Linked DNA regions of Homo sapiens. The protein of the gene in region 3 interacts with the protein of the main gene of each other region in a pairwise test. Each region holds a gene or a part of one and is shown on either strand. Other genes may lie near its edges.

The links.
Region 1: the proteins of ABL1 (region 3) and PACSIN1 interact in a two-hybrid assay, tested with the Homo sapiens proteins (one large-scale study listed by IntAct).
Region 2: the proteins of ABL1 (region 3) and CDON interact in a two-hybrid assay, tested with the Homo sapiens proteins (one study listed by BioGRID).
Region 4: the proteins of ABL1 (region 3) and ITGB2 interact in binary tests that used the Homo sapiens proteins (3 or more experiments, as listed by UniProt).
Region 5: the proteins of ABL1 (region 3) and GJA8 interact in binary tests that used the Homo sapiens proteins (3 or more experiments, as listed by UniProt).
Region 6: the proteins of ABL1 (region 3) and CTDSP2 interact in a two-hybrid assay, tested with the Homo sapiens proteins (one large-scale study listed by IntAct).
Region 7: the proteins of ABL1 (region 3) and CEP76 interact in a two-hybrid assay, tested with the Homo sapiens proteins (one large-scale study listed by IntAct).

What each region holds. Positions count from the first base shown.
Region 1 is NC_000006.12:34,532,076-34,535,723, reverse strand, and holds the end of PACSIN1 (protein kinase C and casein kinase substrate in neurons protein 1), read right to left. Parts: intron 3,304-3,648; coding exon 3,194-3,303; 3' UTR 501-3,193; downstream 1-500. UniProt on the Homo sapiens protein: Plays a role in the reorganization of the microtubule cytoskeleton via its interaction with MAPT; this decreases microtubule stability and inhibits MAPT-induced microtubule polymerization.
Region 2 is NC_000011.10:126,006,919-126,011,001, forward strand, and holds part of CDON (cell adhesion molecule-related/down-regulated by oncogenes isoform 2 precursor), read right to left. Parts: intron 3,777-4,083; coding exon 3,423-3,776; intron 1-3,422. UniProt on the Homo sapiens protein: Component of a cell-surface receptor complex that mediates cell-cell interactions between muscle precursor cells. Promotes differentiation of myogenic cells.
Region 3 is NC_000009.12:130,879,671-130,883,753, reverse strand, and holds part of ABL1 (tyrosine-protein kinase ABL1), read right to left. Parts: intron 3,687-4,083; coding exon 3,597-3,686; intron 3,255-3,596; coding exon 3,090-3,254; intron 1-3,089. UniProt on the Homo sapiens protein: Non-receptor tyrosine-protein kinase that plays a role in many key processes linked to cell growth and survival such as cytoskeleton remodeling in response to extracellular stimuli, cell motility and adhesion, receptor endocytosis, autophagy, DNA damage response and apoptosis.
Region 4 is NC_000021.9:44,900,400-44,904,482, forward strand, and holds part of ITGB2 (integrin beta-2 isoform 1 precursor), read right to left. Parts: intron 3,137-4,083; coding exon 2,966-3,136; intron 1,335-2,965; coding exon 1,093-1,334; intron 77-1,092; coding exon 1-76.
Region 5 is NC_000001.11:147,905,648-147,910,205, forward strand, and holds the end of GJA8 (gap junction alpha-8 protein), read left to right. Parts: intron 1-1,508; exon of another isoform or gene 1,509-2,297; 5' UTR 2,298-2,308; coding exon 2,309-3,610; 3' UTR 3,611-3,622; downstream 3,623-4,558.
Region 6 is NC_000012.12:57,825,862-57,829,944, forward strand, and holds part of CTDSP2 (carboxy-terminal domain RNA polymerase II polypeptide A small phosphatase 2), read right to left. Parts: intron 3,736-4,083; coding exon 3,587-3,735; intron 1,730-3,586; coding exon 1,691-1,729; coding exon of another isoform or gene 1,673-1,690; intron 1,237-1,672; coding exon 1,135-1,236; intron 542-1,134; coding exon 485-541; intron 1-484. UniProt on the Homo sapiens protein: Preferentially catalyzes the dephosphorylation of 'Ser-5' within the tandem 7 residue repeats in the C-terminal domain (CTD) of the largest RNA polymerase II subunit POLR2A.
Region 7 is NC_000018.10:12,685,497-12,689,579, forward strand, and holds part of CEP76 (centrosomal protein of 76 kDa), read right to left. Parts: intron 955-4,083; coding exon 766-954; intron 1-765. UniProt on the Homo sapiens protein: Centrosomal protein involved in regulation of centriole duplication. Required to limit centriole duplication to once per cell cycle by preventing centriole reduplication.

The DNA.
Region 1 (3,648 bases), on a different chromosome or scaffold from region 3:
TCCCACGGGTCCCACACAGAAATGCATTCAGAGCCAGGCGAGACGCAGGAAGGCATGGCACAGCCCAACATCACCGCACAGGGAGCTTGGCACTGTGGACAGCCAGGAACCGTGGGCCTCAGCAGTCACTTTTAGAATTCTGCTTTAAAAAGCAAAACCTATTTGAGGACCTCATTCACTCTTGATCCATGAATGTGGAACCCTGAATGCCCCAGCTCTCCTGGTCAGGGCCTGTCACCAGGCACCCGGAACCTGAATGGGCCAGAGCTCCAGGAGCCTCCAGTATCACCCTCCCCAGTCCAGACAAGACCCAGGCCCCCGCAGGGCGAAGGGACCGGCTCTCAGTGGCCTAGTCTGTGGATGGTGGGCCAGGACAGCACCCAGTCCTGCTCGGGCACCACCCCTACCCCCCTGCATCCCAACCACAAATAGCTCTCAGAGGGCTCAGAAACCCCCAGGACTGAAGGTGCACAGACTCAAGATGACAATGCGCAGCCAGGTTGACACAGTTCTGGATTTTATCCACAGTCATACAATCACAACTGATATATATATATATTTGTATTTATATACCTTTAAATTACACAATCATGTACAAAACAGGTGCATTGCTGAGACCACAGCACTTCTCGGAGTTTCACAAGTGTCGGAACTAATGGAGTCAGGAAGCCTAGGGCGGCAGACGGCGGGCGGTGGGGCAGCCCTGGTTCCTTGCAGAACCAGGCCGCAGAATGGTGGTTAACTGGGGACAAAACACATTACTCGCCGAGCCCCACCAGGGCGGGCCCGTGCAGCATCGTGGGTGCAGGCAGGAGCTACAGGAGGAGGCCGTGGGCATGGCAAGGGGCGTGGCCCCCACACTCGGTGTTGAGTGCCCTGACACCAGCACTGGCAGGTAGGGCTGGGCCCTGGAGCTCAGGGGGACTTCCAGGTAGGAGACCCTCCCGCTCTGGGGCCCTGAGGACCTGGGGACTGAGAGAGTGGTCCCAAACAGGGCCCTGGAGGTGGCTGCTCAGGACGGAGGGGGTTTCGAGTCCCTGCCCTGGAGTGGGCAGCTAGAGTGCTAAGAGGGACAGGCTGGAGTCCAGCTGGGGCTGCAGCCCCTCCCAGGTGCTGGGAAGCCGCTGGCACAGAGAGGGGGAGCCCAGGCCCCAAGGTGCAGATTGCCAGCTTCCCACCTTTCCAAGGTAAGCGATGAGGGACAGAGGCCCCCAACCCCAACTCCTGCCTGGGGAAAGGCTGGAGAGAGAGGCTTCTGCACTGGAGCTGGGAGGACTGCAGGCTTCCAAAAGCTTGCTTCAGGCTCTGAGGAGCCCAGGACACACCTCAGGCTGCAGCCGAAGCTCGGAGACCAGACAGTGATAAGGAAGGGGGTGCTGACGGCAGGAAGGAGGTCTGCCTGTCCCCGGGGTGCCATCGCCCCTGGCCCTGAGGGAGGCCTGCCCCAGCTCAGGCCCTGCCAGAGTGTCAGGACCCTCTGTGCCCACATGAAGAAGGTCAGAGCCTTGAGGCTGGGGTCTACTACCTCCTAACAGTGGGCTGTTGGGAGAAGCAGCAGGAGCAAAGGAGGACTGAGGGGAAACAGGGCTGGGCTGGCTCTCTCTCTTTACCTGGAGGCCCAGGAGGCCAGGTGTGCAGGAGGGAGGAGGGCATCTGCGGTCCAGAGGCCTAGAAGTGGCATCCACTGTAAGCAAGTCTCACCTGGTGCTGCAGGACTTCTCAGCTCCTTGCCCCAGAGGTCCCCAAGAGACTTTTCTTCCAGCTCCCCGCCCTCATGGGGTTTTGTCCAACCCTGGTCTGCTTCCCAAGCCCCCGCACCCTCTCGTGCGGTACCTAGCACTCCGGCACCACTGCTTTCACCAACCAGCAGGTGGGCCCTTTGCTCCCACCCACCCCCAAAGGTCCTTTCACTCTGACCCAGGTTTGGAGACATGGAAGGGCTGCCAGCAGGGAGAATGTTGTTCTGGGGGCCGTGGGGACAAGGAAGAAAAACATGTGACTATCTTCTTCCTGAGGGCCAGGATTCCTCCTTTCTGCTGAACTCAGCTGCAGGCTCTCCCCTGATGTCTCAGGCTGGAGGCACCCGTGCGGCCTTCACGGGCTCCCCAGGCAGGCCAGAGAAGAGGACAGAGGAATGGTTAGGCCAAGAGCCTTGCAGGTACAAGGCTTGGCCTCATGGAGGCTGATGTGGAACCCAGTGATTTTATGGTTTTTGGATGGACATGGAGGGAGAGTGGGGGGCCAGGGGAACAAGATGATCTCCTCCCCAGCAAATGGGAGCAGGCTGCTACTGTTGCTGGCTTTGCCGTAGGTTTGGGGGTCCCCACCCTAGGCCAGGGGACTTTTGAGAGGGGACAGGTCCTCTGCAAGTTGCTGAGGGGGTTTGGATCTGCTGAAGAGCCGATGCTGAAAGTGCTGATAGCTGGAAAGAAGGGCCTGCGTAACAGCGTCTTGGTCCCTCAGATGGGCCTGGGGCTGGGAGGGCTGGCACAGCCCGGGCTGAGGGCCTGCATGCCCTTCATTCACCCTCCTGTACCCCAGTGACACCATGACTTCCTCCAGCTCACCCCTCTTTCATGTCTGGGGGACCCCTGGAAACCTCCATGGGGGAGGAGGGTGACCGTTCCTCCTCCAGTCCCACCGGTCCCAAGGGACGTGGCTAGGAGTAGAAGGGTGCTCCCCGGGGCAGAGTGGAAAACTAAAGATGGGGAAGCCTCCCTTCCAGGGGTCTGGAGAGGAGGCCTTTGAGAGCAGGGTGGTGGAGGAAGGGAAGCAGGGCAGGGGAGGAAGAAGAGGTTAGGAAACCAGGCCAGGGAATGGGGCAGGTGCCGGCAGCCTGGAGTGGAGTGGGACGGAGGGAGTGAGGCGGGGTGGAAGGGTCAGGAGACATCCATCCCTCAGGGCTCAGGAGACTCTTTGGTGGAACCCGAAGAGCAGATGTTGTGATGTTGGGCTAAGTCCTAAGACTGTTACCTACCCTGGGGCCACCCCAAGCCCCAGCACCCCAGCCTCCAGGTGGCCCTGCAAATGCTCTGTCTCTGCATACTTTGTTTTGTTCTGTTTTGACTTTTAAAAAAATAAAAGCTTGATCGGAAAATATGTCTGGAACTCTATGGCGAGGGGAAGGAGACGAGAGTGGGAGGGGAGGGGCGGCAGTGGGGAGGAGTGACGGGAGTATGGAGGGAGGGGGCCTCTAGATAGCCTCCACGTAGTTGGCAGGGTAGAGGCCCAGCTGCCCGCTGTCCAGCCGCCCACGGCACCAGCCCTGCTCATCCTCCTCGCCCAGCTTGGTGAGTTCGTCTCCTGGGAAAGAGAACACAGGGAGGGGCTCAGAGAGAAGGCTGCCCCTCCCTCAACGCACCGGCTGCTAGGGGAACCCTCCAATACCCACCTCCTGATTACTGCACTGGGTTTTAGATTCTTAGGCCCCGCCCCTGGAAACCAGCCCCAGTCCCACGCCAACATTCACGTGCCACCCTTGGCATAGGGGTCTTGGCCTACCTCAGCCATTCACCTAATCTGGGTGTCGGGTCCGTCCCCAAAACCAGACCTCGCATCCACACTATTCTCAGGTTCTGACTCCGCCCCTGGCACCAACCAATCTAAATCTTGCCCCCACTCCCATCCTGGGCCCAGGTCACGCCCACA
Region 2 (4,083 bases), on a different chromosome or scaffold from region 3:
ATACTCCCATGTTACAGTTGAAGAAATTAAGGTTCAGAGAGACTAAGTGAAGGCTGCCAGAAGAATGTTCATGGTGCTGCTGTGAAAAAAAAAATAATAAGAAAGAACAATTTATGAAAACAAATATACTGCCAGCACAATAAAACCTAAGGAGTGACGGCTTGGTTTCTCTAAAGTGCTATTAATACTGGCAACAGAAAATTCTATTTTTCACTCCTTTTGTGGAGGAAGAGTGCAGAGCAAACAACGTACTACTTTTATGTCCAAAATGAAGTCAGATTCCTGGTAAAAGATGGGTGTGTTTTTGGGAGAAGGGCTGCACTGCAGTAGAGAACCAACAGAAAACAGGACTGACAGTGTAAGGTTAGTTCTCTGTTAGTTTAAAAGAGAGAAAGGGTGTCCCAGAAGCATCCTCCATCAGAGAAAACAAGAAGCTAGTGAGGAAATAATGTAGAAGAAAACTAATTAAGTTCACTGAGACAACTTCAAAATATTGCTCCTGGAACAGCAGTGTTTATCTAGTGAGTCAGACTGCGGACTGATGTTCAGGGTGTGATCTGGTGCCTGCTAATGCAGACAGAAGGACTCGGCAAGTGGAGATAATTAACTGTGGCTTGAGGTAGTGGAGAAGGACCTTTTTATCATTAGAAGTTTAGTGGATCCTCCGGGCAGTTTTCCACTGGGAAGTGGGATCTGGCTGTAAAAGAGTTTAAATGCCACATGCCTCATACAGAAGCATGAGAAAAACGTTAATGCTGCAGCTTCTCCACTGTCTGAGTATCAAAATTCCATTTCTGTAAGACTTAAGATGCAATGAGACCTCTCCAGAACTTTTATTAAAAGGGGGATTCAATTAACTTTCTTCTTCTGTTTCAATGATATAATCTGGGCACTTGGGAGATACACTCAATACAACTGAAAAGACCTTACCAGTACTTCCCCGGTGTTTTTGCATGTATTATCTCAACTTATCTTCAGAACTCTATGAAATGGGTAGAACAGGCATCTAGCATCTTTTAAGGTAGAATGTTTTTTGAATCGGAAAAGAGATTGATGCAACTACGGCAATGTAAATAAATTTAATGACTCTAAGTGGAAACTAATTAAACAGGGAGGGAGTACAACCATATCTGTCAAAGATGCTCCCACTGTGACCACTGCTGCCAGCAACTCACAACCCAAACTATTTAGGAAACCCGCACCAACTCTCATTATAGTTTTAAAGAGTACCACACACTCTACAAATATTTGTACATCCAGGACCTCAAAAACCCAAAGTCTCTGGAAAAAACAAAAGGCTGGGGAGAGAGTTATCTCTCTCTCTAACCTAGCTTGCTCTCCCCTTTACAGTACAGTAGTCAAATGACTTGTCAGGATGCTAGAATTTCATAAGGCTCAGATTCCTATGCAAAGAAGTGAGTTGTCATGTATTGTTTTGAGTTTTAATAAACTCGGTTGGATCTTAATAATTATACTAGAAAATTAAAAAAAGACAACGTAGGACCTCTTTGGTAGAATACAGCTGATGGGGTTACCATACATAAAAGTAGTATTTATCGAGACATAAAATCCTGGAGCACAGGGGAATCTTAAAGATCTTCTAAAGTTAGTTCACATAACTTCAAAGGGCTTCCGATTTCTCATATTTAAGGTGAGGAAGTTCGACAAAATATCTAGTTTCATCAGCCATAAAACTATGACATCTGTCTCTCTACACCCTGTATTCACATAATCGCTTCAGCTAAATTCTACCCAAGGAGCTCCTGCAACTACACCTGTCATGCAGTTAACAATTTCGAGCAGAGCCACTCTTATTTTTGCCTAGAGGAATAGAAATATAAACACACACGCACATTCATTTATAGGTGCAAATTTATGTAACACTGAACTACTTTCTTCATTTAAGGATTCTTAATGTTTCTAAAATCAGTAACTATTTCTTCCTTCCCTTAACACTGCCACAAGAGATCACTGTAATTTAATAATAATTAGACAGTAACAATCATAACTTTATACTTAGTATCAATGGAGGGCTTTCTATTGCCAGACACCATTCTAAGCACTTACTACGCATTAACTCCTTGGATTCTCACATCAACCCTATGAGTGGGGCACCTTCACTATACCTGTTACACAGATGAGGAAACAGAACAGAGAAGTGCAGTGATTTGCCCTTGGGTTACAAAGCTGCTAAGTGGCAGAGCCAGGATTCTGACACAGCCCACGTGCTCAGCCTCCACATCTCTCCCACCTCTAACATGCACAAGAGGATAAGGGGAAGTCCCTGGTCTCCACCACTTCTCCTCCGCCTCCAGCTTCATTCAGAGCAAGGGCGTCCTTGTTTGCACGTGAAGGGAAATCGTATGTGCACATACGAACTCTTTTTTATTTCAACCATCACTCCTCTGCCAAGGACCCCCCGTTGACCACTGCTCTGGCTAAGGGTGCCCACACACTGGTCGTGTGGTCCAGACTGTGGCGGATGGGCCAGGGGAGAGGAACTGTGGGGACCAGACTGTGAACTCACTGAAGCAGGAAATGCTGGAGCCCCAGACCTGTCTAGAAGGAGGAATGTGGGCTCTGAGCTCAGCATAAGCACTGCTCCTCGACCCTATGGGCTCTTTAACCTGTGGGACCATGGCCCCAGGCAGAAGAGAGCCACGCTAAGCCCCTTAAAGCAGAGGCCAGGGTCAGAGACCTCAGTTACCCAAAACTAAAGGCAGTACTGCCTTTGATGTTGGGCCTCTCACAAGACAAATAAGATGACAATCTACACCCAACTGACTAGCTGTTGGGGAAAGCTGCCCTAAATGCCTACTGATGGAAGGTCTGAATTTGAATTAAGTCAAGTTTGAGTCCATTTCCATGAATATTAATAGTCTATATACCAGTACATCAAAAATCATATATAGTTTTTAAGTCATCATCACAAAAAATCAGTAAAATATGAAGAATTAATATTATACATCCCATTAGAAAATAACTTTGGATAAGACACAGGGAATATATACATACAGGTATTACTTAATAGTACCACAACTCTACATTCTCAATGAAGGCCAGTCCTTTAGACCCAATACTGTAGTTATCAAGGGCATAAAAAATGTCTGCAATATCATTTTCGGTAGCTTAGAAAACCAAAAGCATTCATCTCAAAGACAGGTTATATTCTGGGCCTGCTCCCAAATGAGAGCTTTCTGTATTGCACCTACAATCTTAACAAACACATCAGAAACAGAGACCAAAATTCATGTGATTCACATAAAGTGAAATACCAAGAAATACAGTTCTACATTTCACTGTCATCAGGAAAAAATATAGAGAGATTGCTGGATTCATTAAAATAACATATTTCAAATCACTTTATCTTCTATTATAAAAGGAAATTACTCAACTAAAAATAAATAATAATGGCAACTCACCAACCATGAGAGATGCTTCTGCCTGTGTGGTACCATGTTCATTTGCAGCTTCGCAGATGTATTTCCCCGCATGTTCCTGAGTCACAGCCTGAATATGGAGAGAGCTTGCACCAGCTTGGGACAGGACGAAGTACACAGGCTCCAGGTTCAAGCCCTCAGGTCTTGATAACTGTGATTTTCGGGATTTCGATCTCAGGACTTGAGATGGATGGCTGGTTATCAATCCATGGCTGTCATACCAACGAATGACCGGAACCGGCAGCCCACTGGCATTGCAGGACAGAGTAACAAAGTCTCCGTCTGCAACCTTTGCACTTACTGGTGCCGTAATTATAACTGGCTTGAATCCACCGTCTATTAAAAAAGTAATTCACATATGAAAAATGAAGAACATTGTAGTACCTACGATGCAAAACAACTTCATCCTATCACGTAAATGTGGGAGTAATGATTAAAACCAAGATAGCTACCTCCTTATTAGTTCCCTTCTCAACTTTCACCAAGTAAGACTGTCAATAAATGGTAGAGTTGTTTCATAGCTGTGGGCTCCTAAACATTTCCTACGTAAATTTCCTGTCCTTCAGAAAGAAAGGAATATATATAAAGAAATCTTTTGAGAGTTTTCTGAAGGTACACTACACATATCTGACCACTGCAAATA
Region 3 (4,083 bases):
ACTGTGGGACACAGCCCCTTATTCCCAGAGCTCCTCATAGGCCTCTCGGCTAGCTGGCTGGCAGGAGAGCCACAGGTTTTGACCCTTTGCTTGGCCTTGTCATCGTTTTTATACTCACTAGAGAGTGATGTGGGTGGGTGGGGGGCTGCTGCCTTCAAGTAAACCAGTGCAGGGATGAAGAGGCCAGGGCCGTCCAGCTTTTTGTTCCCATCTTCAGGGAAAGAGACCAAAGCGTGTGTGTGGTTTTTTTTTTTTTTTGAGTTGGAGTCTCGCTTGTTGCCTACGCTGGAGTGCAGTGGCACGATCTCAGCTCACTGCAACCTCCGCCTCCCAGGTTCAAATGGTTCTCTTGCCTCAGCCTCCCAAGTAGCTAGGACTATAGGCACCCGCTACCACGCCTGGCTAATTTTGTATTTTTAGTAGAGACGGGGTTTCACCATGTTGGTTAGGCTGGTCTCAAACTCCTGACCTCAGGTGATCCACCCGCCTTGGCCTCCCAAAGTGCTGGGATTACAGGCATGAGCCACTGCACCCGGCCCAAAGCCTTTCCTAATGACAATCCTAACAGCAATGATGGCTTTATTGAGAGAAGCGTGACACGTGCTTCACCTTTACAACCTCATCTGCATTCTCACAACAGTGCTGTAGCCCGGCTGGGACTTGCCTGGCCTCAGGGATGGTGGCATCAGAGCCGGTTATCAGATCCAGGCCTGTCTGAGCCCAGACGCTTGGGTGCTCCTCTGGGGAGCATGGGGTGGGGGCAGCCCCCAGCTTGTGCCACGGGAGCCTGACCTTGTGATTCGCTGACCTCGGCCTCCTAAAGTGCTGGGATTACAGGTGTGAGCCACCACGCCCGGCCAACAGTTTTTTAATGGGCACTCTTTAAATATGAATCATAGCTCATAAGAAATCTTTCTGGTAGCCAGGCGCGGTGGCTCAAGCCTGTCATCCCAGCACTTTGGGAGGCTGAGGTGGGCGGATCATGAGGTCAAGAGATAGAGACCATCCTGGCCAACATGATGAAACCCCGTCTCTACTAAAAAATGCAAAAATTAGCTGGGTGTGGTGGCACACGCCTGTAGTCCCAGCTACTCAGGAGGATGAGGCAGGAGAATCGCTTGAACCCAGGAGGTGGAGGTTGCAGTGAGCTGGTATCATGCCATTGCACTCCAGCCTGGCAACAGAGTGAGACTCCATCTCAAAAAAAAAAGGAAATCTTTTTGGTGTTGCCAAGCTCCTGCTAGTGAGTAACAGAATTCTCCCTCAGAGGTCAGCTTGCAAGAAGAGGTTTTCTGTTGGCACCTGTAACTCAACAGAGGTACCAGTATGCATTTATCAGAACCCAAGGCAGCACGCGGGACATCTGAATCAGGGAACACCAAAGCCCTCCCAAAACTTTAATCTAGTGGAAGGAGGCCAGGAGAGTGAAATTGCAATGAATTATGCACCACTCAGTTTCAGCACTGAGCAGTTAATTGACACCCTCGGCTCACCAAGAGATCACTATCAAAATACCCCTCAGATGAAACTGACGGGCGTAAATGAACATGACTGCTGATCACTGGGTTCTTAATAAGCACAGCGTTCCCAGAGGCCTCTCCTCCCTACTGCTCAGCCACCTGAAATCAGGAAAACCGATAAGAGGAGGAAGGGTGGAAGATTCTGGAGAGTCTATACGCCATAACCTCCAAGTAGGTGAGTGAGATGGCCCAGCGGGGCGGGAAGTATTGCAAATTTGGACTTATTTAGCATGCAAGCCTTTTAAATGTGCGTTTTGGTACATAACATACGCACTCTACTCCTACAGTAGTGGACATACGTACTTTATATACCATATATATGGGCTGCATGTTCTGTTTTTTTTTGTTTTTTTTTTACTAATGAGAGTACGTGATAAAACTCAGGTTTATAGATTCTGCTGTCAGTAAACATCCCACCATAAATCTTCAAGAAGTAGGGCTTTGTCCAGTCCCTTCACATGTACCCAGTCTGCAGTCCATTAGAATGGAGTCCACCATTGCCATCCCCAGGATCCTCTGTGAACCCAGATGCTTGGCCTACCCCCCACCTCCAATATGGGTTGGCTGAGTCCCCACCCAAATCTCACCTTGAATTGTAATAAGCCCCACGTGTCAACGGTGGGGTCAGGTGGAGATCAATGAATCATGGGGAGGTTTCTCCCACATTCTCGTGGTAGTGAATAAGTCTCACGAGATCTGATGGTTTTATAAAGCGGACTTCCCCTGCACAAGCTCTCTTGCCTGCCGCCAAGTAAGATGTGACCTTGCTCCTCATTCACCTTCAGCCATGATTGTGAGGCCTCCCCAGCCATGTGGAACTGTGAGTCAGTGAAACCTCTTTCCTTTATAAATTACCCAGTCTTGGGTATACCTTTATTAGCAGCATGAAAACAGACTAATACACCCCTCAATGCTTTTGTTCAGCTGGTCTGCAGCAGAACCTGGACTGCTGGTTCTGGGGGTCAACCATGAACATAGAACAGAGCCTGGCCTGTAGTAGGCACACTACATAAATGTTGGCCATTATTATTTTTGCTAGTGTCTTGAGACCCCCTCCTGAGCTGATCCCAACTCCCTTGCTCGCCTAGGCAATGGCACCAGAAAGATGCTCTTCCCAGAGACCACCAGGACACGGGTTCTGTCCATGTGCGTGTCCTGGTTCCACCTGGCTGCAGCGAGCTTCTCACATCAGTGCCTTCACCGTGAGCTGCTTGTCACGCAGCCTGGTGCTTACTATTGTTGAATCTGCTCTGAGACAGCAACCACAGATGCCGCGGGTAATAGGTGGGAGATGGGCTAGCTCCTTGGCGGGCTTCAGAAGCACCTCTGCCTACAGGACTGAACTCACTGCTGGAGCCTATGCTCCTCGGGGACTCTCAGAGGGAGGGGATAGGAGGCAGGTGGGGAGAGGAGAACCTTCCTCCTTCCGAAGCTGAACCATTGACAAAGGCCATGGCTGCCCTTCTGTGCGGGCTCCATTCACAGCTTCCCGTTGGCCTATGATGGCCTGAATGTAGCCTCTGGCAGGGAAGGGAAGAGCAGTGGGGTTGGGGGAAGCGGGGGACTTACCGCTCTCTCCCTGGCCCTTGGAGTGAGGCATCTCAGGCACGTCAGTGGTGTCTCTGTGCTCTGCAGCTCTCCTGGAGGTCCTCGTCTTGGTGGGCAGCTCTGGGGCCTGCAGCAAGGTACTCACAGCCCCACGGACGCCTTGTTTCCCCAGCTCCTTTTCCACTTCTAAGAATCATACAGGGACAGAAACAAAAATCCAGCAGCCATCAGTACTGGTGTTGGCTTGGTGTGGTGGTTCTCTTTCTTTGTAAGGTAACAGTGCTCATCTGCATACAACTAAAGAAAAGGCACGTGGATACCGGAGAAACAGCCCTTAGCATTTCTTAGAACTCTGCAGGGCTGCAGCAGACAAGAAAGCACAATACTCCACACCTCTGCCCAGCTTTCTGGTCTCAGGACAGGCTGGTCTGTGAACTTTCACCAGGAAGTGAACCGAATGACCCAGGCTGCAGTCCCACATGGCTGCCCTTTCACCCCACTGCAGGTACCCCGGGATGGGTACTTTACCGTCTGAGATACTGGATTCCTGGAACATTGTTTCAAAGGCTTGGTGGATTTCAGCAAAGGAGGGCCGGTCAGAGGGATTCCACTGCCAACCTGGACAGATGAAACCCAAGTCAGATCATCCATGAGATCTGGCTAGCAATACGGGGCTAGCAGTTCTCAAGGAAAAGTCTAGAATGAAAGCAACATTCCAATCCTGCTAACCATCTTTTGCTGCAACAAGTCAAAACGATGAATGTCATCATGTCCTGTTATAGACATTAAGAATTTGAAAAGACGTTAGATGCTGGCAGGAATATGGATTGTAAAACCCCAGAGAGACAGTGACAGCAAGAACTGCATTTACAAATATATTTTTCCCAGTCCCGCTCTAGTAGGTGTAGAAAATTACTAAGCCAAACAGCTCACCTTCTATCTTGTTCTTTCTTCACGGTTATCAAAGTCTGAAGTAAAGAAATTCTCATGAAAATGAGACTAACATGAGGACTAA
Region 4 (4,083 bases), on a different chromosome or scaffold from region 3:
CGTCGCCCGCGAAATGGAAGCCGTCATCAGTGGCAAACACCAGCAGCCGCGTGACGTTGCGCCAGCCGATTTCCTCCTGAGAAGAAGGCGTGGGGGGCAGGGTTACCTGCCTCAGTTTCCCAGACCCGGCCCTCTGGAGCAGAGGAGACGATGCAGAGCTGGTGGGGTGGCCCGGAGGCTGGTGTGGGTCCCCCTTTCCCCTGGGTCTCAGGGACCCAGCTGTGTTCCCCCAGACGCCACGCCCAGGAGGAGACAACGGCCCTCAAACACCCCGTGCACATGTGAGGCGCAGGGAGTGGAGGCACGTGTGGAAAGGCAAGGAGAGAGACACGGCTGCGGTCCCTGCACTTCAGAGCTGGGAACAAACCCTCAGGAAACCATCCCCAAGGGGAAAAACCCTCGCAGACGTGTGGGCCACACGCAGAACGAGTGCAACATGGAGGAAAACGAGCCTGAGGGGCCCAGCAGGCCTTGAGTCCACCATTGACAGCCCCTGGCAGGCGCATGTGGGGGCCGTGCGTGTCCTAGGCTGTGACCTCACACTCGTGAGCAGTGTGTCTGCGCTGGGACTGCAGGGAAGCAGGAGAGCTAAGGTGGGTTGTGAGGGGAGGACAGTGCATGTGGCCTCAACATGGCCCAGGGACTGTGGCTGCTCTGTTAGGCTGACAGTCACAAACTGGGTGGGCGGGACGTGGAGAGCGACACACACTGGGCAGCCAGCGCCCACCCGGCCTGGAGGGAGGAGGGTGGTTCCACCCCAGGAACCACGGGACCTGCTGCCTAGCGGCCCTGTTCCACCCTTGGCCGCTCGCAAAATGTTTAGGCTTCATAAGGTTTGCCCAGGGTCACAAATTTAACTCACAGCAAACAATGAAATCAGCGCATGATTTTCGAGCCCTCGTGGTCACCCTCCCTTCCTCCTGCCCTTTCCTGCATGGGCAGCAGCAGGGTGAGGAGCTGCTCTCCCCAGGCCCAGGCTGGAGTCCCTCAGACGACCTGCCGGCCAGGGTACCCCCCTGCCCCCACACAGCGCCTGACAGAGCCCCCCACACTGGGGGAACGTGGGGACCCAAGCAGGGGCAGCGGCCTCACCGGGCAGGCGGCGACCTGCATCATGGCGTCCAGCCCACCCTCGGGTGCATCCAGGTTTCCGGAAATCAGCTGCTTCCCGACCTCGGTCTGAAACTGGTTGGAGTTGTTGGTCAGCTTCAGCACGTGCCTGAAGGCAAACGGGGGCTGGCACTCTTTCTCCTTGTTGGGGCATGGGTTTCGCAGCTTATCAGGGTGCGTGTTCACGAACGGCAGCACGGTCTTGTCCACGAAGGACCCGAAGCCTGCAGGGCACATGGAGGGGCTGGGGAGGTGGCAGGCTGGGCCCAGGTGGGAGGGCCAGCTTCAAAGGGGCACGAGGGCAAGCCTGTTTCCTCTCTCCTAGCAGGGAGGTGGAGAAAGCAAGATGGCACATGTGGAGTGTGTGTGTGAGCATGTGCGTTGTGCAAGCACACATGTGAACGTATGTGGGCGTGTGTGTGAACCTGGGAGTGTGCAATGTACATGGATGAGCATAAGTGTATGCATGTGTGTTCCTGCATGTATGTGTGTGACCAGGTATACATGTGGGCATGTGAACAGGTGCGTATGTGTATCTGTGTGTGCAGCCATCTGCATGTGTAAACATGAGTGTGTACATGCGTAGCACAACTGTGTGTGCACGTATTCCTGTATGCATGTGAGCATGTTCAGGTATGGACACACCTAGTTCACGTAGGTGACCAGGTACATATGTGGGCATGTGTGTTTATGTACGATTTATACATGTGAGTGAAGACATACATGGGTGATCATGAGTGTGCATGTGAGCATGTCTGTGTGCACATGTGGTCTTGCACGTGTGTATGACTGTGTGTGCATGTGTGTGCACATGCAAGTGTGAGCATGCATTCATGTGTGTGAGCATGCATTTGTGTGTGAGCGTGCATTCACGTGTGTGAGCGTGCATTTGTGCATGTGAGCATACATTCGCGTGTGTGAGCATGCATTTGCGTGTGAGCATACATTCATGTGTGAGCATACATTCACATGTGAGAGCATGCATTTGTGTGTTTGAGCATGTGTGTGAGCATACATTCACGTGTGTGAGCATGCATTCACGTGTGTGTGCATTTGAGTTTGGGTGTGCTTTTGTGTGTGAGCATGCATTCGCGTGTGTGAGCATCCATTTGTGCATGTGAGGATACATTCATGTGTGAGTGTGCATTCGCATGTGTGAGCGTGCATTTGCGTTTGAGCATGCATTTGTGTGTGAGTGTGCATTGCATGTGTGAACATGCATTTGTGTGTGAGCGTGCATTCACGTGCATGAGCGTGCATTTGTGTGTGAGCGTGCATTTGTGTGAGCATGCATTTGCTTGTGTGTGTGTGTGTTATCGTGCATGTGTGCATCCCCGCATGTAGGGAAGGTGGCAGAGTGCCGATGTGAGAAGCCACGGCCGGCGGGGAAGACATGCGCTGTGACTGACACACACGTGTGCTGGAGACCTGCTCTGTGGCAAGGCAGTGCTGGTGTAGAGCGGAGCCCTTGGCCCAGCAGAGCTTGCTGTGTGGTTTCTTCAGTGCTGCCGTCGCTGTGCCGTCTATATGTGTTGTGGTCTTTAATGTTTAATAATTGGCACTGTCAGAATTTTGTCTTTTAAACATACCAAGAAATAAATAAAGGAAGTAGAAGATGGAAGGGGAAGTGGAGGGCTGGACAATGTCTACAAGTGTTGGGGAGCCAGGGACTGGGTGTGGCCCCTGGCAGGGAGGCAGGCCGACTGCAGCCCTGTGGATGCCCTGGGGGGACCTGCATCTGGGGCCCCCAGATCTACCCTGGGGACCTGAGTGCGAGGAGTTGTGTGGGCCACAGGCAGGAGTGGCCAGGGTCTGGGAAAGGACTGGGTTTTGTCCTGCAGTGCCTGGGCCTCACCAATGCGGCCGGACTCGGTGATCTCGTTGAGGGCCCGGAGCAGGTCGCCACCTAGCTTCTTGACATTCCTGAGGTCATCAAGCATGGAGTAGGAGAGGTCCATCAGATAGTACAGGTCGATGGGGTAGCCCTTGGCCCGCCGGAAGGTCACGTTGAACGCTGCTGCCTGGCCTGCCGGTGGGGACAGAACAAAAGGAGCCACACCTCACATCTCACACAGGGTGTCTGGGGGCGTGTGGCCCCGAGCGGGCTGTGCACTGGCACCCTCTCCTCCAGCCCCCAAATCCTCCTGACCTCCCCTCTCCCCGCCTGGCAGGAGAGCTGAGGACCAGACACAGGACATCCAGGCAGGCTGGAGTTTCAGAGGAAGGACATGACTCCCGGACGCAGGCATGTGCCTCGCAGTGACACTGAAACCCGCCTGGGGTGCTTAGAGTTGACGCCAGCGACATTGGGGACGCCTTTCATTGAGAGTGGCAGCGGCTCACCTGGGCTCACACCTAACCCGGCCCCATGCCTGCAGTCCCACGGGCGCCCTCATCAGCAGCCACATAGACAGGCATCACACGAACCTGGCACTTCCCAGCAAGGCCCACGCGGGCCGTCCCCAGGAGGCCCCTTTCTCCATCCCAGCCCTGGACTTCCGCTCGCCCGCGTCTCAGTCACACGTGCGGTTGTGTAGCTGTCTGTTTACCTGTCACCGCAACCAGCCTGTGTCCCTGGCTCCCAGAACCGTGCCTGGTACAAGTCAGCTCTCCATAAACACACATCATGTTAATGAATGAGCAGGGAGGGAGGGTGACGAAGCCTGTCCCCTCTGCCCCACCCTCCAGCCTTCAGCCCCCCTGGGCGGCAGGACAAGTGCAGAGCCCACTCCACCCCCAACCTGCCTGCTGCCACACCCTGGGAGAAAGGGTATGTGCCCCTCCTCACAGACACACACACACGCACTCCTACACATAAATACACCACATGCACACACAGTCACACATGGCATACACACCCACATATATGCACACACACAATACTCACACACAAATATAACTCATGCACACACAGTCACACGTAGCACACACGCACCCACATATACACGCACATGGCACCCACACACAGCAAAC
Region 5 (4,558 bases), on a different chromosome or scaffold from region 3:
TTACCTGATTGTGATGTTTCCCACCTATTTTCCAAAAGGCAATGGGAATGGCTACCACTCTTACCAGGGCAATTACTAGACTTAACTATAGTCTGAAGAGTTAAAAATAGATACATGTGGCTGGGATTGAGTTGCTGGTTCCGATTCCGAGCTGCTGGGTCCTTCCCCCTCTCCATTACCCATTTCTCCAAGGAACTCTTCCCAATGCCAGACCCATGACTGGGGATGCCACAGCTGCTGTCACTTTTTCAGGAGAAGAGAAGCTGCTGCAGGATGCCCTGCCTGATTGGGAGCTTATGAGGCCTCAAGAGGAGGAGCACTCTCTGCTCTCCCACAAGAAGCGAACAGCTATTGTGCCTGCCCTGACAGCACAGGCTGGACATTGCAGATGCCTGCAATTAGTATCCTGCCACCAGGTTCTGTCTGGCCAGACTCCAAATCACAGGTTGGAAATAGGCTTTTGTGTTTAACAAATATCACTGTGATTAAAAAACAATAGGCATATCCCTTTAGCCCCATAGGTTCCTAGGCCTATAGCATGGGGCATGGCTAGAAGAAGCCCAGAGCAAGATCCTCTAACATGGGCTCTTGCCCTGGTCTGAGGGCAGTGATGAGTAAACTTATAACTCTAGAGATGTTCAAGCTGCAGGAACAACTGTTCTCCATTGAGGTGGAAGTTTTGCTCATCATTCTTTATAGGTTACAGGTTTGCACTGGATGAATGACCCAGTTGCAGCCAGCCCCTTGTCAGCTCAATGCCATTTCCATTAGCCATTGCTGTGCTACAGGCATTATATACTATCATGTTTAACGATATTTTTTCTATAGACCAAATTTTTGACTCTATTAAAACAGCCATATGTTACAGACCCTGAAACATTTTCATTCCATAGGACACTAAAAGTGTCCTAGAAGACCTTCCTCATCCTGTGACATGATTCCTTCCCAAAGCATTCTCTCTGTTCTTTGGATTTAAAAGAGTAATAATAAAAATATACGGCCCTCAATGTGTAAAGCTATTAATAAGGGTTTCCAGATTTCAACCTAGAGAAGAGGAAACATAAATTAAGAGCACAGAAGTCAAAGAATTGTGTAGCTTTGATTGCAGGCAGTTTATCTCAATGGTGTAGTGGGAAGAACCCAGCCTTTGTGATCAAGCAAACAGAACTGCTGCTATTTAGCTGTCTAATCTTGGACAATATATTTAGCCTCTCTGAGCCTCAGATTTCTTTTTTCTTTTTTTTCTTTTTCCTTTGAGACAGGGTCTTTCTCTGTTGCCCAGGATGGAGTATAGTGGCACATATCAGGGTTCACTGCAACCTCGACCTCCCAGGCTCAAGCAATCTTCCTGGCTCAGCCTCCCAAGTAGCTGGGAACACAGGCATGCACCACCGAGCCCAGCTAGTTTTTAAAGTTTTTTGTAGAGATGGGGTCTCACTGTGTTGCCCAGGCTAGTCTCTATCTCCTGGGCTCAAGTGATTCTCTTGCCCTGGCCTCCCAAAGTTCTAGGATTACAGGCATGAGCCACTGTGCCTGGCCTTCAGTTTTCTTATTTGTTGGAATCAACTTAGTTAACAAATACTTATCAAGTTCTCACTGTGTGCTGGGCTGTATGTCAGGCATTGAGTATATAGCTGTAAATAAGACAGGCATGGCTCCTACCGTCATGGAAATTACAGTCTAGCAGGATCAAGTTAAATGAAATAATATAATGTCAAAGTTCTTTCACAAAGTTGGTATTCAATAAATGCTAATCCCCTTCCACTTCCCTTCAAATATACGATCATTATATATTCTGACACTCAAACATAAGATGGCCACAGACAATTTCATACATACAAGAATTGTGTTGGGAGCCCAGACACCCATAGTATAAGGGAACTCTTCAGCATTATGTCTCACGAAACTTAGATCAGTGTGTGGTCTTGATTTAAATCCATGTAACCAAGGGTTTCTATTTATGGTCAACAATGAATCCTTATTTTTGGTGGACTTTAAGGAATTATACAAATATTGCCTCATTGATGCTTTCAGACCATTTGTGAAGTGAATGAGAATAGGTATTATTATTATTAAACCCATTTTACAGATGAGGAAGCGGATGGAAGCACATTCTTCGGGGCCTTCTTTGTTCTCTAGTCCTAGTCTGCACAAAGGAAGCACTGGATAGACGCTGTGTGCACATTGACCGTTCTGGCAACTTGGAAAGGAGAGGTACCCCGCGTTAGCAAAAACAGATATTGACTCAGGGTTGCATTGCGGCCGCTCAGCTCTTGCCTTCTCCCTCATTTCTTCAGGTGGGTGAGAAATGGGCGACTGGAGTTTCCTGGGGAACATCTTGGAGGAGGTGAATGAGCACTCCACCGTCATCGGCAGAGTCTGGCTCACCGTGCTTTTCATCTTCCGGATCCTCATCCTTGGCACGGCCGCAGAGTTCGTGTGGGGGGATGAGCAATCCGACTTCGTGTGCAACACCCAGCAGCCTGGCTGCGAGAACGTCTGCTACGACGAGGCCTTTCCCATCTCCCACATTCGCCTCTGGGTGCTGCAGATCATCTTCGTCTCCACCCCGTCCCTGATGTACGTGGGGCACGCGGTGCACTACGTCCGCATGGAGGAGAAGCGCAAAAGCCGCGAGGCGGAGGAGCTGGGCCAGCAGGCGGGGACTAACGGCGGCCCGGACCAGGGCAGCGTCAAGAAGAGCAGCGGCAGCAAAGGCACTAAGAAGTTCCGGCTGGAGGGGACCCTGCTGAGGACCTACATCTGCCACATCATCTTCAAGACCCTCTTTGAAGTGGGCTTCATCGTGGGCCACTACTTCCTGTACGGGTTCCGGATCCTGCCTCTGTACCGCTGCAGCCGGTGGCCCTGCCCCAATGTGGTGGACTGCTTCGTGTCCCGGCCCACGGAGAAAACCATCTTCATCCTGTTCATGTTGTCTGTGGCCTCTGTGTCCCTATTCCTCAACGTGATGGAGTTGGGCCACCTGGGCCTGAAGGGGATCCGGTCTGCCTTGAAGAGGCCTGTAGAGCAGCCCCTGGGGGAGATTCCTGAGAAATCCCTCCACTCCATTGCTGTCTCCTCCATCCAGAAAGCCAAGGGCTATCAGCTCCTAGAAGAAGAGAAAATCGTTTCCCACTATTTCCCCTTGACCGAGGTTGGGATGGTGGAGACCAGCCCACTGCCTGCCAAGCCTTTCAATCAGTTCGAGGAGAAGATCAGCACAGGACCCCTGGGGGACTTGTCCCGGGGCTACCAAGAGACACTGCCTTCCTACGCTCAGGTGGGGGCACAAGAAGTGGAGGGCGAGGGGCCGCCTGCAGAGGAGGGAGCCGAACCCGAGGTGGGAGAGAAGAAGGAGGAAGCAGAGAGGCTGACCACGGAGGAGCAGGAGAAGGTGGCCGTGCCAGAGGGGGAGAAAGTAGAGACCCCCGGAGTGGATAAGGAGGGTGAAAAAGAAGAGCCGCAGTCGGAGAAGGTGTCAAAGCAAGGGCTGCCAGCTGAGAAGACACCTTCACTCTGTCCAGAGCTGACAACAGATGATGCCAGACCCCTGAGCAGGCTAAGCAAAGCCAGCAGCCGAGCCAGGTCAGACGATCTAACCGTATGAAGTGACGCCAAAGAAAAAAAAAAAAACGCCCAAGCTTACGTAGGGCAAGATGAAAGGAACAGGTGCCAACATGATCTGAATCTTCTGTCTCCTGTCCTCCCACCAGCCTCTGGTTGGACAGGCACTGCAGCAGGGCAGTGCACTCCAGGCAACTCTAGGAAACAGTCTTTCCCACATCCAGCATAAGGGCTACCAAGATAAACCCATCGACCCACTAAAGTTCCCCAGTCTCATAGGACTACCCCGCTCCTCCAACCCCAGCAGCTATGGGTGACTCTTCTTTCATCCCCATTTCTCCATAGAAACCCTTAAATCGGAATTGGGGTTGCCTCATAGCCTTTTACCCATCTTGTCTCAAGCTCACTAAGCCAGAATCTATCATCCCAGCATTTCTGAAGCAGATACCATGTGACCATATTTCAGGGATCCAGACTCAAAAGCCTACAGAATACAGACAGGTGACATAAGTTGCAAGACAGGCCTGTTCTAATGCAAGGGAGAGAATGGGGCTGTGAAAGTTGGAAAGCAGGGGCAGCTGCTGCTCACTTCCAGACAATGAGTACCATGAAGTGTTACCTGGTCTTTCTGATTTTTCAAGGGAAGCCAGAAATCCAACCTTTTTTTTAGACAGGCTCTCTCTTGCCCAGGCTGGGGTGCAGTGGCACAATCTCAGCTCACTGCAGCCTCAACCTCCCAAGCTCAAGTGATCCTCTCACCTTAGCCTCCCAAGTAGCTGGGACTATAGGCGCACACCACCACACCCGGCTAATTTTTGTATTTTTTGTACAGATGGCGTTTCACCATGTTGCCTAGGCTGATCTCAAACTCCTGGGTTCAAGTGATCCACCCACCTCAGCCTCCTATAATGCTGGGATTACAGGTGTATGCCACCGTGCCTGGCCCATGAAATCTAAATTTTAATTGAAATTTTCAAAATTGTTAATGTTG
Region 6 (4,083 bases), on a different chromosome or scaffold from region 3:
GGGGTGGCAGGGGGAGCATGGGCAAGAGGGCATTCCGGGCAGAGAAAATGGTTACTACTGATTTCCCTGCCTGTTACAGGCAAAGAGATACCTGGTTAAGGTATCTTAACAGGTATAGATACCTTTCTTAAGGAACAGAGAAATGTAATAAATCATTTAACAGTGCTGGCCACGTGAGGGGATGGTGGTTAACAAACGATAGCTATTATTATTATTAAATAAAATGTAAACTATTCTTTTAAACAGCTTGGTTGCAAAGAGAAAACAAGGGAGACAGCTGGGTGGGATATGGGGCTGAAACTCTTTTTTTAAGGTGAGAAAGCCTTGAGTGAAAGATACCAATAAAAAGGGGAGGCTGGAGTTATAGAAAAGGGATCAACTGACAGAACCCAAGCCCTGAGATGGGTGGAGGACCCCAGTACAGGTGAGGCAGAAGGCAGACCCCCCACCCTCTGGGCTGGGTGTGGTCTGGCTGGCAGCTCACCTGGTGAGTGGTCCCCTCAATCTCTATAGGCACTATGAAGTCAGCATTGTTGATTGGCTGGAAGGCAGAAAAGTTAATGCTGTCAGCATGGTGGCAAAGAAACATGAGGCCCCCACCATACCCCTAGGTGGGTGGGGAGAAACAGGTCTTAAAGACTCCTGGAAGTGCCTCTGGCCACCTCATTAAGGGGTTCTCACCCTAGTTCAAGATGTGATACCCCATTCTGGTTTTCCCTACTCCTTAGCACCTCCACTCTGACAAATTCTACCTGGGCTGAGAGTTTTGGGGCCTGAGTTTCCTGAGGAGACAAGCAGGGGCAAGGGCCAAAGGTGATCCAACCACTCTTTTAGGCCTGCCCTGTACAGAGCCCTCGTGGCTGGCTTTCTGTGCTATGTGGCTCGGGGGCAGATGCAGCCTGTTGGGAGTGACTGGAGATAGCAGCCCTGGTGGAACACACAGGGTTCCTACTCAACATTCTTCAGTGGGGCCTCTAGATACCTGTGACACAGGGTGGCCAAAATGCCAGAGGCCTGGCCTTTTCCCTTCTAATCACTCTTCTTTCCTCACCTTTAGGCTGCCTTACACATCTGTTGCCAGATTCACAAGAAGGCCCAAGATAAAGGTAGGAAGGGTTCCAGACATTGAGTTACCTTAAAGGAGCTATGCACAAGGGTTTCATCGAGGTCAATGACCACACAGATCCTTCCTTGATCTTCCTCTGTCACCTCTGGGAGCAGGCAGGTCCCTGGGATCTAAAACCAAGCCAGGTTGCTGAGATCTGCCTACCAAGAAAGCCCAATTGTACCCCTTGGCATAATTATGGGAAGAGCTGGGTTGTTTGTGGAGACACAATCACCAACCCAGGATAGGCACCACTTAAAGGCCAGGAAGAAAGGAGGTGGAGTTGTTTCCTTGGTTTCAGCCTCCCAGTGGGACTATTAAGTGATCTGGACATTGGAGGTGGTGGCCAGGGCAGGTGTGGGATGGACAGCAGCTGTGGGAAGAGGGCATGGAGCACCAGCTGTCCCCTAAAATCTAATGCCTTGCACATAGCAGGCCCTCAACAAGTATGGGGAACAAATGGCTTCCCAGGTCAGGGAGGTGGCTGGCTAGGCACCAAGGACTATGCACATCACCCTGCCCGTGGAGCTGGCAGGGATCACAGGATCCTGGCTTCTGAGTACTTACCAGGCCAGAGTCACGTACCTGGTAGAACTGGTACTGGAGACACTGGAGCAGATCCGACTGAGGAAGAGAAGGAGGTGGTCAGTGCCATCTCACTGCCTTTCCCACCCCATCCAAACCCACTGCTTCTGTCTTAAGCCTGGAGGGCAACTTTCTCCCCCAGACCCAGCCACCTGGAAGCTCCTACCATGTCAAAAGTGACTTTTCCTAGGAGTGGGGCAGGAAAAGGGAAAGGCTAGAGCTTCCTTTCCACATTAGGCCTGATGAAGGATGGAGAAGACAAGTGTCCCTGTTCTCGGCTGCCACTGCCTCTCAACTGGACAAAGTGAGGAACAGGGAACTCAAGTAACTGATTCAGGGACACAGAGTCAGAGGCAGAACCAAAGTCTGAATTCCTCACAGTGGCAAACTCTCGCTAAGTCCTTAAACTCAGGCTTCTCCTTGAGAACATGTTGTTTTCCATGCCCTCCTTAGGGGTTATGTGGGGGAACAAGCCCTATAAAACATCAAGTAAGCCACATTGTAGGTACCCAAAATGTGAGGGGAGGGAGTGCAGAGAGATCAGCAAGCCCCCCACCCCAATTTTTGCTAATACAAATGTTATGACCGCCGGGCGCAGTGGCTCATGCCTGTAATCCCAGCACTTTGGGAGGCCGAGGCGCGCGGATCACCTGAGGTCAGGAGTTCGAGACCAGCCTGATCAACATGGAGAAACTCCGTCTCTACTAAAAATACAAAATTAGCCGGTCGTGGTGGCACATGCCTGTAATCCCAGCTACTCGGGAGACTGAGGCAGGAGAATCGCTTGAACCCGGGAGGCGGAGGTTGCGGTGAGCCAAGATCGCACGCCATTGCACTCCAGCCTGAGCAACAAGAGCGAAACTCCATCTCAAAAAAAAAAAAAAAAAAGTTATGGTTTTAAGTGTTCTTAATGAAAACTTTGAAGAAAAATTAAAATCCTAGCACTTAGATAAACAATGTGGCATTCAGTGTACTGCCTTCAAATCTGTGTCCGCAGACTTTTTCCAGAATGCTATACAATTACACACTCTGCCTTTTTACTTAATGTTGCAACTCAATACTTCTCCATGTTATTGAGAACTCTGTAAAAGCTAATCACTCAGTAATACTGTCATGTTGTATTTTATTTAACCATTTCCCCTACTGCAAAATGCAGTGATTTTTCACTGATGTATGTCTTCAGCCTGGTCTTGAGAAAAAGGAAGGACAACCAGACCTCAGTGTTTCAGAGAAGTACCACTGGCTTTTGGGGCAGAATAATTTTTGTTGGTCGGGGCTGGCCCCACCTGTGAAATACTAGACATATAAAAAATACCCACAAAATCCCAAATGCCTTGCATGAGTATGGGAGAGAACTGCTGACAGGAGTTATTAACAGCATGGTAGAGTTTCAATTCCTTGGTTCCCTGTAACTCAGGTAACTTGGAAGTTAGCTTTGCATAATTGAGAACAACAACACAGGCTTTAGAGCCAGAGAAATCTAAGTTCAAATCCTGACACTACTATTTATTAACCATGAACTCTTCAGGTGCTACATAAACCCTCTACATAAATCCATATCTGCAAAGTGTGAATCCTGTGATCTCCTTACAGGGCTGCTGGCTGGATCACATGAGACAATATATGCAAAGCACCTTGCCTAGTTCCTGGAACCTGGAAGGATCAGGATCACAGGGGCCCTCAGAAACCACAGTGACATGTGAATGGCCCACACCGCAAAAGGGAAGGAACAGAAAGGAAATACACTACTTATGGAAGGATGGAGGAAGGGCCCCCTCTCAGCCAGAAATCTTTGCAACTTCAGGCAAAGCTTCCTTGTCCGGTTGCCATCGTCTGCAGGGATCTCCCATTAACAGTCCCTTCATTGCTGGCATCTTACCACCCCAACCCACCTACCTTAGCAATGGTGTTTGCTTCCTCCTTATACGCAGCGAGCTCAGTGGAGGAACTTGACTGGCCAACATGCTGGGCGCGAAAACAGCAGAAAAGGGCCTTGAAGATGTTACGTCCACGAGGCTTCTTAGGAGAGGACTTGGAGACCAGGCCTAGGGTGGAGAGAATGACAGAGGCTTTAGCTCTAGGGACATCAGTTTCTGTCCACAGATACTACCATGCCCATAGCTCTTCTAGTTTGTAAACTCTACTAGGGCACACAGTATACGGCTGGTGAACAACCACATACAGTTAACAGTCAAACATACATGTTTATTCCAGCCTTTTCTCTTTAAAGCAGGAATGTCAGGAATCCCCACTCTCTGGCTTGGGAGACCTGAGCCACAGAGCATTTGTTTTTCATTCCATCGGGGAAGATGGGGCCAGGCATAGAATCAAGGTGTTCTGCTGCTCCAGCTGCAGCACACTCAAAATTAATTCACGAAGACAAAAATCCTCCC
Region 7 (4,083 bases), on a different chromosome or scaffold from region 3:
TTTTTGTGTATTGATATTTAAATGTTATGAAAAACAGAACAAGGTTCTGACGTGGTCAAGCTGATAGCACCCCAAAGCGGTTAGTTCCAGGACCCTTGCAAAACAAAATCCGTGGATACTCAAGGCTTATATAAAATAGTATTTTTTTTTTTTTTGAGACGTGTCTTGCTCTGTCCTCAGGCTAGAGTGCAATGGTGCGATCTCAGCTCACTGCAACCTCCGCCTCCAGGGTCCAAGTGATTCTCCTGCCTCAGCCTCCTGAGTAGCTGGGATTACAGGCACACGACACCATGCCCAGATAATTTTTTGTATTTTAGTAGAGATAGGGTTTCACCATGTTGCCCAGACTGGTCTTGAACTCCTGACCTCAGGTGATCCACCTGCCTCAGCCTCCCAAAATGCTGGGATACAGGCATGAGCCACTGCGGCCAGCCAAAATGGTATAGTATTTTATATATAACCTAAGCACATCCTCCTATATACTTTAAATCACCTCTAAATTGTTTAAAAATCTCAATACAATGTAAATGCTACATAAACGTTGTTACACACCATTTTTTAATTTGTACTATTTTTTATTATTGTAATTTTTTACTTTTGTAAGTATTTTTGATCTGCAGTTGGTTGAATCTACAGATACAGAACCTGTGGGTACAGAGGGTTGACTATATGTGCATTTTTCTAAGGCATTCTTTTACAAATGGATTACAAATTCAGAGTAACTATGATATACTGCTACTTAATTCTATTATGTGTGTATAATACCTTGTTTCTACAGAGAAAGGCCAGCAGAGTGCACCACTGCTCCTGTTTACCTCCTCCTCCAATAACAGGGGCTCGTTCATAACCAAGGACATTAACAAATCTTGCTGCTTGCCTTGGAGTATCAAGAAGCCGTCCAGCTCGAAGTGGTTTAACATAGGAACAGACTGGTCTATTTATCCCATTTTCATCCTAGGGAAAAGGGGAAAAACATCTGTAATGACATATTAATCATCCCCAATTATGTTTTTTTCAAATACATTAATGTAGGATAAAATAATTCAGCATACCATTGATCGAGTGCTTACCTTGTATCCAGTATTTGGCTGCAAAGTGCTGTGTATATAATTTCCCTTAATCCTCATCTCCGTTATTTTCATTTTATAGATGAAAACTGAGGAGCTACAGCTATTATGCAACAGAGCCAGGTTCAAGCTCTGAGCTGTTTTACTCCAAAGGCTGTGGCAATAAGAACTCCTCTGAGAAATGTGTGGGTAGGTATGTAGGGGAGGGAGAGGTGCTCTAAGCTGAAGTATTTTTTCACATTACCATATAGAATTTAACAACATATAGCCAGACAGAACAAATAACTCTTCTGATTGGCTGATATAACAGAAATGATTGTAGCTTGATTCTAGTTTGTTTCCATTAGGGCCTCAAATTTAGAGATCCACAGGAAACAATAATTTGTTAACCAAGTCAATTGAAAGCAAAATTTCAAAAAACACTCTAGAAAAAGTTTTACATCCTAAATACAGGATATCTCCTGGTGTTGGTGCTGAATAACTTGTATGCATATATAGGTCTCTGATGACTGTCTACCACTGTGATTTTACAGTGAGTATTACCAAAGTCCACAATCTCTTTACCTTCATGGTTACTGATACGGCACTGTGAAAGGGCCACTTACTATTCAAGATTTGGAGATGACCTACCCTCCCTGATAGGGTTCCTCAGGACATGAGATCTAACCCAGCCAAAAGAAACACCATCTGTTTGAATTATCAGAACCACTGATGTCTTTCTCCACAACCAGAACATCTTTTTCCAATATAGTCCCATACTTTAGCAAGGAAAAAAAAACTCACTTATTTACATTTGATTATAATGAGAAAGATCATTAATTTTTATGTTGCAGAGCAACTTGGCTATAGATTCCACTCATACCTATAGTTCTCAACTATAGAAGGCATCAATTTTTTTTTTTTTTTTTTTGAGACAGAGTCTCGCTGTTGTCCAGGCTGGAGTGCAGTAGTGTGATTTCGGCTCGCTGCAACCTCCGCCCATGGGTTCAAGCGATTCTTGTGCCTCGGCCTCCTGAGTAGCTGGGATTACAGGTATGTGCCACCACACCTGGCTAATTTTTGTATTTTTGTAGAGATGGGGTTTCACGATGTTGACCAGGCTTGGTCTCAAACTCCTGACCTCAAGTGATCCGCCCACCTCGACCTCCCAAAGTGCTGGTATTACAGGTGTGAGCCACTGTGCCTGGCCTAGAGGGCACCGATTTTTAAAACAGAGGATTATTATTCTAATTTTGGGGGGATGTAGAGAACTATGGTTTTCTTTTACATGAACTTAGCATTACTAATAATCTAGTGTGGTATAAGAATACTAAGTCCTGAAATCACAAACTAAATATTAAAAGAATATCCTCAATCCTCAAGTGATTTACAACATTTTCTTAAAACCTAATGGCCTTAGGCTGGGCACGGTGGCTCACGCCTGTAATCCCAGCACTTTGGGAGGCCAAGGTGGGTGGATCACGAGGTCAGGAGATCAATTCCATCCTGGCTAACATGGTGAAACCCCATCTCCACTAAAAATACAAAAAAAATTAGCCAGGCATGTGGTCCCAGCAACTTAGGAGGCTGAGGCAGGAGAATGGCATGAATCTGGGAGGCGGAGCTTGCAGTGAGCCGAGATCGTGCCACTGCACTCCAGCCTGGGCGAGAGCGAGACTCCATCTCAAAAAAAAAAAAAAAAAAACAAAACCTAGTGGCCTTAAAGTTCAATTTCTGTAACTTATTTTAAAGTTTCTTGCACTAAAAAGTTCAAAAAGCATCATTCAATGAATTACTACTATACTATAGCAAAACCAGCTAACAAAGGGTAAAAAGAATAATGAATTTTTAAGTATAATGGCCACGGCAAATCTACAGATCTTTGGTTAGTATTGAGGTGCAGGACTGTTACTCCTATTCTTACAAATCCACTAACAGGCAAGAAAAGATGAGCACATAAGAAGTGGAAGCATTTGCCTAAGTCAATCATCAATAGTAGCATCTTAGAATGTAAGATATATCATTTTATTACAGCAATATTCTAATATTATCTAAATATATCCCCACAAGCTACTTAACTGTTTTGAAAAGTTAATATTTCAACCTCTGAATGGGCACTGTCCAGTGAGAAAATCACTAACCATTATGAGCTATTTAAATTTTAATTAAAATTTAAAATTCAATTATTTTTAGTCATAATAGCCACATTTTGAATGCTCAGTACATGGCTGGTGGCTACCATACTGGTTAGCACAGATACAGAACATTTCCATCATTGCAAAAAGTTCTTGGCCAGGTGTGGTGGCTCACGCCTATGATCCCAGCACTTTGGGAGGCCGAGGCGGGCGGGTCATGAGGTCAGGAGATCGAGACCATCCTGGCTAACACAGTGAAACCCCATCTCTACTAAAAACACAAAAAATTAGCCAGGCATGGTGGCACGTGCCTGTAGTCCCAGCTACTTGGGAGGCTGAGGCAGGAGAATCACTTGAATCTGGGAGGTGGAGGTTGCAGTGAGCCAAGATCGCACCACTGCACTCAACCCTGGGTGACTGAGACTCTGTCTCACAACAACAACAAAAAAAAGTTCTTTACTTTACTTTCAGTGCTGGATACATTAGAAATTTTTTTGGCCTGGATATGTATATTAACGTTTTGATTTATAACTATTGTTTTTATAATTAGATTGACTGTTTTACACTGTTGTTGTTTAATTTCAGAACTAGTCAAATACAGGAAGCAGCAAGAAACAGTTCTGAGGAATCTAAATTAAATCAGCATTTTATTTACTCTATGTATATGGAAAGAGGTGGCATAAACCAAAAAGGCACCAGTTGAAACTCCAATTTGACACAGACTTTGCCATGACTGAGTTGCTGTTTGGCCTTGAAAAGACTGTTCACTTCTCTAACCTTCATACTGTTTACAAAAAGAGCCAATGCCTGGCCACTTGACAATCTTATATGGTTACTATGAGACTAAATTACGTTCTATGGTTCAAATCTTAAAATGAATTCTGAGAGAGGAAGTCGTTTAA